3 linked regions of the Homo sapiens genome follow. The protein of the gene in region 1 purifies or fractionates together with the protein of each later gene. This does not show direct contact. Each region holds a gene or a part of one and is shown in the gene's direction. Other genes may lie near its edges. The genes, in order: SLC27A6, GUCY1B1 and PTER.

Evidence for each region.
Region 2: the proteins of SLC27A6 (region 1) and GUCY1B1 purify together in Homo sapiens (affinity purification with mass spectrometry; one large-scale study listed by BioGRID and IntAct). This does not show direct contact.
Region 3: the proteins of SLC27A6 (region 1) and PTER purify together in Homo sapiens (affinity purification with mass spectrometry; one large-scale study listed by BioGRID and IntAct). This does not show direct contact.

The regions. Positions count from the first base shown.
Region 1 is NC_000005.10:128,971,977-128,975,627, forward strand, and holds part of SLC27A6 (long-chain fatty acid transport protein 6), read left to right. Parts: intron 1-3,651. UniProt on the Homo sapiens protein: Mediates the import of long-chain fatty acids (LCFA) into the cell by facilitating their transport at the plasma membrane.
Region 2 is NC_000004.12:155,757,422-155,761,172, forward strand, and holds the start of GUCY1B1 (guanylate cyclase soluble subunit beta-1), read left to right. Parts: upstream 1-1,599; 5' UTR 1,600-1,719; coding exon 1,720-1,722; intron 1,723-1,934; exon of another isoform or gene 1,935-2,120; intron 2,121-2,365; coding exon 2,366-2,439; intron 2,440-3,751. UniProt on the Homo sapiens protein: Mediates responses to nitric oxide (NO) by catalyzing the biosynthesis of the signaling molecule cGMP.
Region 3 is NC_000010.11:16,439,958-16,443,608, forward strand, and holds part of PTER (N-acetyltaurine hydrolase), read left to right. Parts: intron 1-3,651. UniProt on the Homo sapiens protein: N-acetyltaurine hydrolase that regulates feeding by catalyzing the hydrolysis of N-acetyltaurine into taurine and acetate. N-acetyltaurine has anorexigenic and anti-obesity effects that are dependent on GFRAL receptor and GDF15.

The DNA.
Region 1 (3,651 bases):
GCATTTGCTTGTTTGTAAAGGATATTATTTCTCCTTCACTTATGAAGCTTAGTTTGGCTGGATATGAAATTCTGGGTTGAAAATTGTTTTCTTTAAGAATGTTGAATATTGGCCCCCATTCTCTTCTGGCTTGTAGAGTTTCTGCCAAGAGATCAGCTGTTAGTCTGATGGGCTTCCCTTTGTGGGTAACCCGACCTTTCTCTCTGGCTGCCCTTAACATTTTTCCTTCATTTCAACTTTGGTGAATCTGACAATTATGTGTCTTGGGGTTGCTCTTCTTGTGGAGTATCTTTGTGGCGTTGTCTGTATTTCCTGAATTTGAATGTTGGTCTGCCTTGCTAGGTAGGGTAAGTTCTCCTGGATAATATCCTGAAAAGTGTTTTCCAACTTGGTTCCATTCTCCCCATCACTTTCATGTACACCAATCAAACGTAGATTTGGTCTTTTCACATAGTCCCATATTTCTTCGAGGCTTTGTTTTTTCTTTTTACTCTTTTTTCTCTAAGCTTCTCTTCTCGTTTCATTTCATTTCATTCATTTGATCTTCAATCACTGATACCCTTTCTTCCACTTAATCAAATTGGCTACTGAAGCTTATGCATGCATCATGCAGTTCTCGTGCCATGGTTTTCAGCTCCATCATGTCATTTAAAGTCCTCTCTATGCTGTTTATTCTAATTAGCCATTCATCTAATCTTTTTTCAAGGTTTTTAGCTTCTTTGTGATGGTTTCGAACATCCCCCTTTAGCTCGGAGAAGTTTGTTATTACCGGTCTTCTGAAGCCTGCTTCTGTCACCTCATCAAATTCATTCTCCATCCAGTTTTGTTCCATTGCTGGCAAGTAGCTGTGATCCTTTGAAGGAGAAGAGGCACTCTGATTTTTAGAATTTTCAGCTTTTCTGCTCTGGTTTCCTATCTTTGTGGTTTTATTTACCCTTGGTCTTTGATGATGGTGACCTACAGATGGCGTTTTCATGTGGATGTCCTTTTTGTTGGTGTTGATGCTATTCCTTTCTGTTTATTAGTTTTCCTTCTAACAGTCAGGACCCTCAGCTGCAGGTCTGTTGTAGTTTGCTGGAGGTCCACTCCAGACCCCGTTTGCCTGGGTATCACCAGCGGAGGCTGCAGAACAGCAAATGTTGCTGCCTGATCCTTCCTCTGGAAGCTTGGTCTCAGAGGGGCACCTGCTTGTATGCAGTGTCAGTTGGCCCCTACTGGGAGATGTCTCCCAGTTAGGCTACTCGTGGGTCAGGGACCCACTTGAGGAGGCAGTCTGTCGGTTCTCAGATTTCAAACTCCCTGCTGGGAGAACCACTGCTCTCTTCAGAGCTGTCAGATGGGGACGTTTAAGTCTGCAGAAGTGTCTGCTGCCTTTTATTCAGCTATGCCCTGCCCCCAGAGGTAGAGTCTACAGAGGCACACAGCCCGGTTTGAGCTGTGGTGGGCTCCACCCAGTTCGATCTTCCGCACTGCTTTGTTTACCTAGTGAAGCCTCAGCAGTGGTGGACTCCCCTCCCCTAGCCTTGCTGCCACCTCGCAGTTCAATCTCGGACTGCTGTGCTAGCAGTGAGCAAGGCTTCGTGGGTGTGGGACCCACCAAGCCAGGCACGGGATATAGTTTCCTGGTGTGCTGTTTGCTAAGACCATTGGAAAAGTGCAGTATTAGAGTGAGAGTATCCCGAGTTTCCAGGTACCGTCTGTCACAGCTTCCCTTGGCTGGGAAAGGGAATTCCCTGACCCCTTGTGTTTCCCAGGTGAGGCGATGCCCTGTCCTACTTTGCTCACACTCTGTGGGTTGCACCCACTGTCCAGCAAGTCCAAATGAGATGAATCCGGTACCTCAGTTGGAAATGCAGAAATCACCTGTCTTCTGCGTCGCTCACGCTAGGAGCTATAGACTGGTGCTGTTCCTATTCAGCTATCTTGGAACAATAAAAACACAAAGGTTTACTTCTGAGCACTCATTTTAATCTTGTTTTCATTACGGGAGGAAAGGGTCTAGGAGCAAATGTAAACTCCAAGTTTTGCTAATAATTGATAAGGCCGTAAGTTCTGTTTACAAGGGCCAACCAAGAGGGCCACAGTGTCCCTGAAAAAATGGAGACATTCCAAAGCCGGTTTCCTGAGAGATTCGTCTTAAAGTACATAGGACTGGCTACTTCTCAAGATAGAGCATTCAGGCTTTTCTGTTGACCGAATTGTTGTTTAACTAGGACCAATTAATTTTGCAGTTTTACTTGTGCCAGCTTTTACTTTGCTTGCCAATAACTAATTGCATTGTTTTCTTATTTTTGTTTTTAACACCAACAGTCAGTTTTTTGTATTTAAAAAAGCCACTTTGGGATACTGAAGTTTTAAGCCAAGACTATTTAGTTGATTGGCTCGGTAAGTAGGTCACTGGAGAAGTCACCCATTCTTTCTGGCATACCTTCAAATATAAATGAGATATATGTTTTCCAAAGATGGAAAAATTCTATTTTGATTAACAGATTTTGTAATAAGATGTAGCTTAGATCATAGTCACTTTTATACTTAAAATACTGTGTTGTTGGCATCTGGAGTCTCATTTGTGAACAATATAAACATACTCTTTTTAGCACATTAAATTTCAGATTTCTTGGATTCTCATTGGATGTTTCTGATGGTGTACTATTAAATCATTATACCCCCAGGGAGAGTATATTGAGGTAGAAAGATGAATCATGTGGTTCAGACGGAGGTAAGCCAGACAGACCCAAATTCCATGTATGGTCTGCCACTTCCTGGCTGTATGGTTAAAGATAATATCATCAGTTACCCTGGATCTCACTGAACTTAGTTGTAAAATGGTGATGATACCATCTGATTCACAGTATAATTCTGAGGATTAAATGACACATCTTTTGTAAAGTGGCTAGCTGAGTGCCTGGTATGTACTAAGTAGATCTTATTGTATTTAAATGATTGCTATTATGATTATAGAGTAATCCTGGGGCTTTTAATAAGGGATCTCATTTGGATTTTGCAGCTACAACCTTATTTGATGTTAGCTAGTATATACAGTCATGAATCACTTAATGACAAGGATACTTTTCTTAGAAATGTGTTAGACGGGCCAGGCGTGGTGGCTCACGCCTGTAATCCCAGCACTTTGGGAGGCTGAGGCAGGCAGATCACCTGAGGTCAGGAGTTTGAGACCAGCCTGGCCAACATGGCAAAACCCCGTCTCTACTAAAAATACAAAAATTAGCCGAGTGTGGTGGCAGACACTGGTAATCCCAGCTACTTGGGAAGCTGAGGCAGGAGAATCATTTGAACACAGGAGGCAGAGATTACAGTGAGCTGAGATCGTGCAACTACACTCCGGTCTGGGGAATAGAGTGAGACTCCAAAAAACAAAAGCAAACAAACAAACAAAAGAAATGTGTTAGGTGATTTTGTTGTTGTGTGAACATCATAGAGTGTACCTACACGAACCTAGATGACATAGTTTACTACACACCTAGGCGCTGTGGTATGGGTTATTGCTCCTAGGCTACAAACTTGTACCAGGATATTACTGTACTGAATATCGTAGGCAATTGGAACACAATGGTGGTAAGTATTTTTAAGTGAAAACAGAAATGGTACAGTAAAAACATAGTGGTATGATCTTATGGGACTACTGTTGTA
Region 2 (3,751 bases), on another chromosome or scaffold:
TGTGTAGAAAAATAATCAAAAGATACAGAAAGTTATAAAAAGTAAGAGTCATGGCCATTCCAGCCACTGGTTCTAATTACAGACGATAGCCATATCAACACTTCCTGTGTTTCCTCCCAAACCATTATTCTTACAGCAACATGTATGTGCCTGTGTTATTACCCACATAGCACCTTACTGTATACTAACTCTAAAAAATGGAAAATGATTACATTCTTGTGGTGTTTTGTAAACCTGACAATACTTTTCTGCATCATCATTTTCTAGTCACCCTCCTGCTTTTTCATGGTTGTTTAATGTGCCATTTTAATGGTTCAAAATTAGTGGTTAATTGTTGTTAAATAATGATTAATGTTTTAATAGTTGTTTAAAACAAGGTGTTAGATTGTATGAAAGGCTGTAATCTATTTACTCATTCCACCAATAATGGAAATTTTTAAAGTAATTTGTTGTTTTGTTTGTTTGCTACATGCCACTATTTCTGTATCAGTTTCCTTCATCATAGCTCTCTCGGTGCTGATGTCAGCACAATCTTATTGTTTTGACATTTTTCTCTAACCATATTGAGACTGTTCTCACAACAAAATATGCACATCTTAAAATACCATCTGGCTTCTCAGGTCCACTTGAGACTGGTGACCTCACTTTTGACCTTGCCCTAAAAGTCAACTGGAGTCCATATACCTCAGGTACAAACAGCTTTAATAAGCTGCCACTTCCTGTTCCTCTCATCTTCTCTCTATGGCAGGACTCAGAGCATTAACTAACCTAAGGGCCTGGTAGAATGTAAGCTGGAGGTAGAGTAGTTAAAGTCTGTGCATTTTGTACTGGTCATTTTCCAGTTCGTCTGTTGCTAAGAAACAGCAACAGAGGCCCGCTCTAGAGGGTTACAAACTCCCTGGAATTATGGCTCCCGGACATGGTGTAGGGAAAGGTGTCCCACAGGGATCAAGCCTAGAATATCGCTGGATCTTGTACAGTTTAGTAAAGGGCAGGACTGGATTTAACATAACGTCCACCAAACTACATTACTGAAAATTTTTGGTGCTTCACTCAACTAGTCTCATTGACTAGAAGTGAAAATATGTTTTTCTCAATATTACCAGCTTTAAATTTGCCATAAACTGTTGTGGGACCAAGCCACAGAGGAAATGTTTTTCCGCTAGACAAAGATAAGCATGAGGATGCCAGCAACAGAGGATATTCCTTTTAAGGTCTGTCCATTGCAAAGTACACACGTACACGCTCACACAACAAACACGCCCTGTTCCCTTTTGCTTGTGTTAACCACTGAGGGCAGATCTCTGAATAATAATACATTTAGTGGGTCCACAAGAGCTGCATTTCCTCTGCTCCAGAATTCATGCAAGGAGCACGGCTGGGGCTTCTCCACTGTCATTGTTATGGCCTCAAATGAAGGCCTTGTCACCAGGCGGGGGCGGGAAGGCACTGGAGCGCAGCAGCATTGAGAGCATCCGAATTCCCTCCTCTGTCCCTGATTGGTTGAAGAACTGGGGAGCACCGACCAGCCCCCTGCGGCTCGACTCGCCATTGGCTGGGAAGAGGTGGCAATCAGGGCGGGCCAAGGCGGCTGTTCTCGCTCCAGCTCGATGCTGCCTCCCCGGCCCGGTTGCGCTGTAGCCGCTGCCGCCTCTGCCTGGGTCCCTTCGGCCGTACCTCTGCGTGGGGGCTGCCTCCCCGGCTCCCGGTGCAGACACCATGGTAAGTGCTCTCAGCCGGGTGCGGCCCGAACCTCACCCCTCCTCGGCCGGCCTGGCAGCGAGGGAACTGGCCGCGCAGCCGGAGCTTGGCTCGGGGGCCCTGGGCGCTCACTGCCGGCCACGGGAGCAGCCTCACTCCTTGCCCGCGCCCAGTCAGGGGAGGTGGGAACGCCGCGAGTCGTGGCGGGGGCGATCGGTGCCTTTGCTTCCCAGGCGGGTTTGCCGCTCCACACCGCAGCTTCCTGAGCTCGGGAAGGGGAGGTGCGGCGGAGGCGTGGGGTCTTCCCGGCTCTGGCCGGCCCCACCAGTGTGGGAGGCTGAGCGCCAGCGGAAGGGAAGGCTCCGGGTTCGCGTCCCCGCGCTGCCCCCGATGCCCAGCCTCTCCCGGAGCGGTGACAGGTGAGGAGGGTGGGAAGATAGCGTGGGGGTGGGGCGGATGGTGACGGGGAGAATCCACCAGGGATTGGGGGGTTGCGCCCCCACGATCCGACTCCTTTAGTGCATAGTACCCCTAAGGGAGAGGAGTCAGGGGCGGGGTGAAAGGTTAAGCCAGCGCCATGGGAGCAGAGGCAGCAGCCTCGCCCCCAAGCCGCTTCTCAGGTACAGCGGGTCCCTGACGCTCAAGTCTCTCCCTGTCCCCGCAGTACGGATTTGTGAATCACGCCCTGGAGTTGCTGGTGATCCGCAATTACGGCCCCGAGGTGTGGGAAGACATCAAGTAAGTGGCCGGCTACCCTGGCTGTGGCCCAGGTCGGCGCCCAGTGTGGGAGGCCCCCCGCGCCTCGCCTGGTCCTCAGCCTGCTGGCCGGGTCGCGGGCGCGCATCCTTGGAGGTGCCTCCGCGCCTCGCTCCCGGCTCGCTGCAGCTGCGCTCCCACGCTCCGGGACTGGAACCAGGAGGGGAGGGGCGGCTGGGGCGGGGCTGCGAGGGCGAGAACCGCGGAAAGGAGCCCCTAGGGGTCACCACGGCTTCCCGACCCGGCCTGAGCGTGGGAACGCGCTGCCGGCGCTCCCAGGCTCAGCAGGCCGGGCAGCTCCCACGCGTGCAGAGCCCCGAGGGACCACACGGGCCTCCGCGAGGTTCCTGCGCCCGGAGGCCTTAGAAACAAACGGAAGACTTTGGCTCCTTTATGATTTACACACCTGGCGTAAGTTAGGCCTTTTTGGTATGCTGAAACACGCGGGAGATTATTTCTTGAGCAACAGTGAATTAAGCGCATTTATTCATTTTTAAATAAAGTGAAAATTGGAAGTTTTTTGTTTTCCCCAAATCCCACTGCCCACCCCCCCCGCCCCAACCCCTATCCCCCGTTTTTTTCTACTGTGTTGAAGACTTAACAGTTCTAGGAGGCATTCTACTTTCAGTCCTGGAGCTTTGAGCCCAGTACTGGGGATGTGAACGGAAATACCACACCCACCTGAGAGTTTAAACCTGTTGGAATGACTGATGGGTCAGCATGTCTGCAGGCAGGTTGACTATTTCACTCTAATAAAGTTGTCTCTCCTTTTTCCTCTCACTCTCAAAAAATTTGCATTTAACTTATGGTACAGCTGACCACCACCAACTAGCTACTCCAAAACCCTATTTATGGATTTTCATATTAGAGCAACAGTCAGACTATCACATTGTAACAAAGGTGGAAGGAAGGGTTTCCTGGGTGGGCAGATGGGAATACACTGTTATTATTCACTCTGATTTCCTGTACTTAGTGATTTCATTTTGTTGTCTCAGGTAGGTGAGGCTTCCATGCTGTTTTTCCCTAAGCACATTACAATTATTAGCAATCAATTCTAACAGGCCTTATTATGCAGTTACATGATGGTGATTTCTCATAACGATCTGTTTCCATAGAAATGACCAGGGTTATATATTAAGCACGAAAATGTAACTTTTCTTTCCCCTGGATCTGTATCACTGAGCGTTTCTTTCATGTTTCAGAAACCATTTGTATTATCCACAGGGCATATTACCTACATATTATAAACAGAAGCCGAGATTTGGCAAGTATGTGGTTGAATCCAATGAGAACA
Region 3 (3,651 bases), on another chromosome or scaffold:
GACTGAGGTAGTTGTTGAATATATTTTCATACATCAAATGTGGCTTTGTTCTGTTTTCTTTAGCTGTTGTTTCTAGTGTATTTTCAGTGGTCCAGGTTTTCCTAACAAGATTTTTTTTTTTTTTTTGTGGCAGGGTCTCACTCTATTGCCCAGACTGGAGTGCAGTGGCCCTATCTTGACTCACTGCAACCTCTGCCTCCCAGGTTTAAGTGATTCTCCTGCATCAGCCTCCCAACTAGCTGGAAATATAGGCATGCACCACCACGCCCAGCTAATTTTTTTGTATTTTTGGTAGAGACGGGGTTTCATCATGTTGATCAGGCTGCTCTTGAACTCCTGACCTCAGGTGATCCACCTGCCTCAGCCTCCCGGCATGAGCCACCACGCCCGGCCCTTAATAACACTTTTATAACAAAAGGCTTCTCATTCATAGACATCATCTCTTAAAAAAAAGAAAAAGAAAAAAGAATAAGAAAAATAAAATATCTGGTTCCATTTGGCATAAACTGGCTCTGTGGTTGTACCTATTTTGTCAAAACAATAACCACCTGAGTACAAATACCTCTGTGCCTGCTCAGCGTGAGAGCTGTGAATGTTAGCCATTTCCCTGTCTCCTTCCAGGCAGGTATGTCCACGTGACTTGTTTGGCTAACGAAACGCAAGTGGAGTGACCTGTGTCACTTCCAGGTAAAACTGTGTTAAAAGCCAGTGAAAGATTTGTCACAATCACTTTCCCTCTGCCGCAGTGACCATCCAGATAGAGGCAGTGGTCTCAGCCTGGGTCATAGAGGACAGTGAGCGGAGCCCCCTGCCTTCCTGTGTTAGACGTATTCGATGAGCTAGAAATAAACTTTTGTTGTGGTCAGACCCTGAGATTCGGGGATTTGAGTGTTACTGTGGCCTAGCCTGGTCAAGCCTGCGTAATGAATATTATCAGATAAGCTGCATGTATGCGGGGATTTCTGGCTCTGGTTTACCAGATACCTTGGGAGCTGTGGGGAGGGCCCTGAAAGAGGCTTGTCCTATGAATCATGCTCCTTTTACTGTGTGGGAGATGGCAGGTGTGCTGTTCCCATCATGCTCCAGTCTGCTTTGTGATTTTAATCAAGAGTGGCAAAAATGGCGTTTAGATGTTTAATTGCATTCTGTAAGGGCAGACCATGTTAAAGTGTAAAATAGGTAAAGGCTGTATGCCTGGAAGGGATAAGAATCAAGGCTTTCATTTTTACTTTGAAAAACACAATTTATATATTTTTAACAATTTTCAGTGCACTTCCAAGTTTTCCAATACAGAGGAATGTTCGTGGGTGAGTTGTGAAAAGATGATTCTTCCCAAATGCAGTTATCAGTGGATACATTTCAGAAATTATTTTGTCACTGAAGGACATTTGAAATGAATCATCCGTACTTACCATTGACTAATACGTTTTTTTTCAGGCAGCTTCAAAGAGTATTTTAAATATGATTTCCTGGCTATCTGATTTCGGATCTAAGAGTATCAGACTTAGGTTTTGCTGTTAATGTCCTAGGGGCAGTGTGTTCACTCTTTTATTCTGAGTTAAACAGAAGGCAAGCCGGGAGCATTGTGCTTTGGACAGAGCTGTGCTGCATTCTTAGGGGACACTGGCTATAAATCCAGTCTCCCTAGAGGTTAACAATCAAAGTTCTCCCCTTATTATAGTCAGGCGAGTGATATGATGATGATAAATTGCTTGGACGTGACTGGCCCAAGCACTAGTGTGATGAATTATGTTGTTCGGGGCATGACCGAAGATCTTCTATTGTCAGCTGGCAATGCTAAGTATTGGCAGTATTCATAAATAGCCTTTTGCCAATGGTGGTCTCTGCTTTACATATTAAATTCTCTGTTTTCACAGGTTGTGGTTCTTAGTCATCTGTGTCCTCCACTGAATTCACTTACATAATCAGCCTTTTTTTTTTTCCTGTTCCCTACTTATTAAACGGGTGGGATGTGCTCACTTGTGTATGGTAAACACTGAGTTCTTTCTTCACAGAAACTGTTAAAAGAGTAATTATTAGTTCTTTTTACTAAATCCAGAGTAATAGCAACTTATCTTGCAGTGGCTTAATTGGGTAATTATTTGGTGTGTGAAGAGCACTTTGAAGAGAATATTGGTAAATATTGTTAATTTCGTGCTCTTTTATGTAACTGAAAGCCCATTGCGACCACAAAATCCTTGGTGTTACTGTGTACCCACAAAATTTCTTTCCTGATGTGGCTTACTATTTTCCAAATTATTTGTTTGTTGATTTTTAAAAACATTTTTTAAATTTTCATAAATTCTCAAAGTTATCTCATGTTTATGCCTTGACAATTCGACATGTCTCATCTCCTACATTCTTGCATATCTGAAAGGTTAGATGTTATCAGTCTTGCTCTCTAACAGTTTGGAGGACAGATAAAGCCCGACCATGTAATTGAGAAATTGAAATAAAGATTTATTTGGTCAGAGCCCATGCCCTGAGCTGTCATCTGATTGCCATCAGAATTTGTTTAAAAGTGTTAGGTTGGCCATGCACGGTGGCTCATGCTGTAATCCCGGCACTTTGGGAGGCCAAGGCGGGAGGATTGCTTGAGCTCAGGAGTTCAAGACCAGCCTGGGCAACAGTGAGACTCCCATCTCTATTAAATAAGTAAATAAGAATTAGGTTGACTTGCATGTGCCTGGCCAGCTCTTTTGACAGATTTTCTTCTCACTTTATAAATTCAGAGCCTGCAGGCCAGGCGTGGTGTCTCATGCCTGTAATCCTAGCACTTTGGGAGACCAAGGCAGGCGGACCACTTGAGGTCAAGAGTTCGATACCAGCCTGGCCAACATGGCGAAACCCCATCTCTACTAAAAATACAAAAATTAGCCAGGCATACGTCTGTAAGTCCAGCTACTCAGGAGGTTGAGGCAGGAGAATCGCCTGAACCCGGGAGGCGAAGGTTGCAGTGAGCCAAGATTGTGCCACTGCATACCAGCCTGGGTGACAGAGTGATACTCTGTCTCAAAAACAATAAAAATAAGATGAAATAAAATGTAGAGCCCCCAGGTGTAATTAAGGGCCATTTCTGTAGCTTAGATTAGATGACCTTGATTACTCACTATGTTTGTCTTCCTAGGGCTGCCATCACAAAATACCACAAACTGGGTGGCTTTAACAACAGACATTTATTTTCTCACAGCTCTGGCAGCTGGAAGTCCCAGATCAAGGTGTCAGCAGTGTTGGCCTCTTCTGAGGTCTCTCTCTTTGGCTTGTGGATGGCCGTCTTCCCTTTTATGCATGTCTGGGTATTGATCTTTTATAGGGACACCAGTCCTATTGGATTGAGACCTACCCTAACAACCCCCTTTTAACTTAATTACTTCTGTAAAGACTATCTGCAAATACAACCACATCCTAAGGTGCTGAGGGTTCGGGCTGCAACAGACAAATTTTGCAGGGAGATACAACTGAGCCCAAAATGCTCCACTGCAATAGTAATGGTCTGTTTGGAAGCTACTGTTTTTGGAGTTATTTTCTTTGATTGTTAAATTTGACCTTCCAAGTGATGACTACACATCTTTGGAGAATCTCCTCAGTTCAGGAACTTCTTTTTAACTAACATTACTTGGAGGAGAGCTTAATGCTCGTGACTTTAAACAT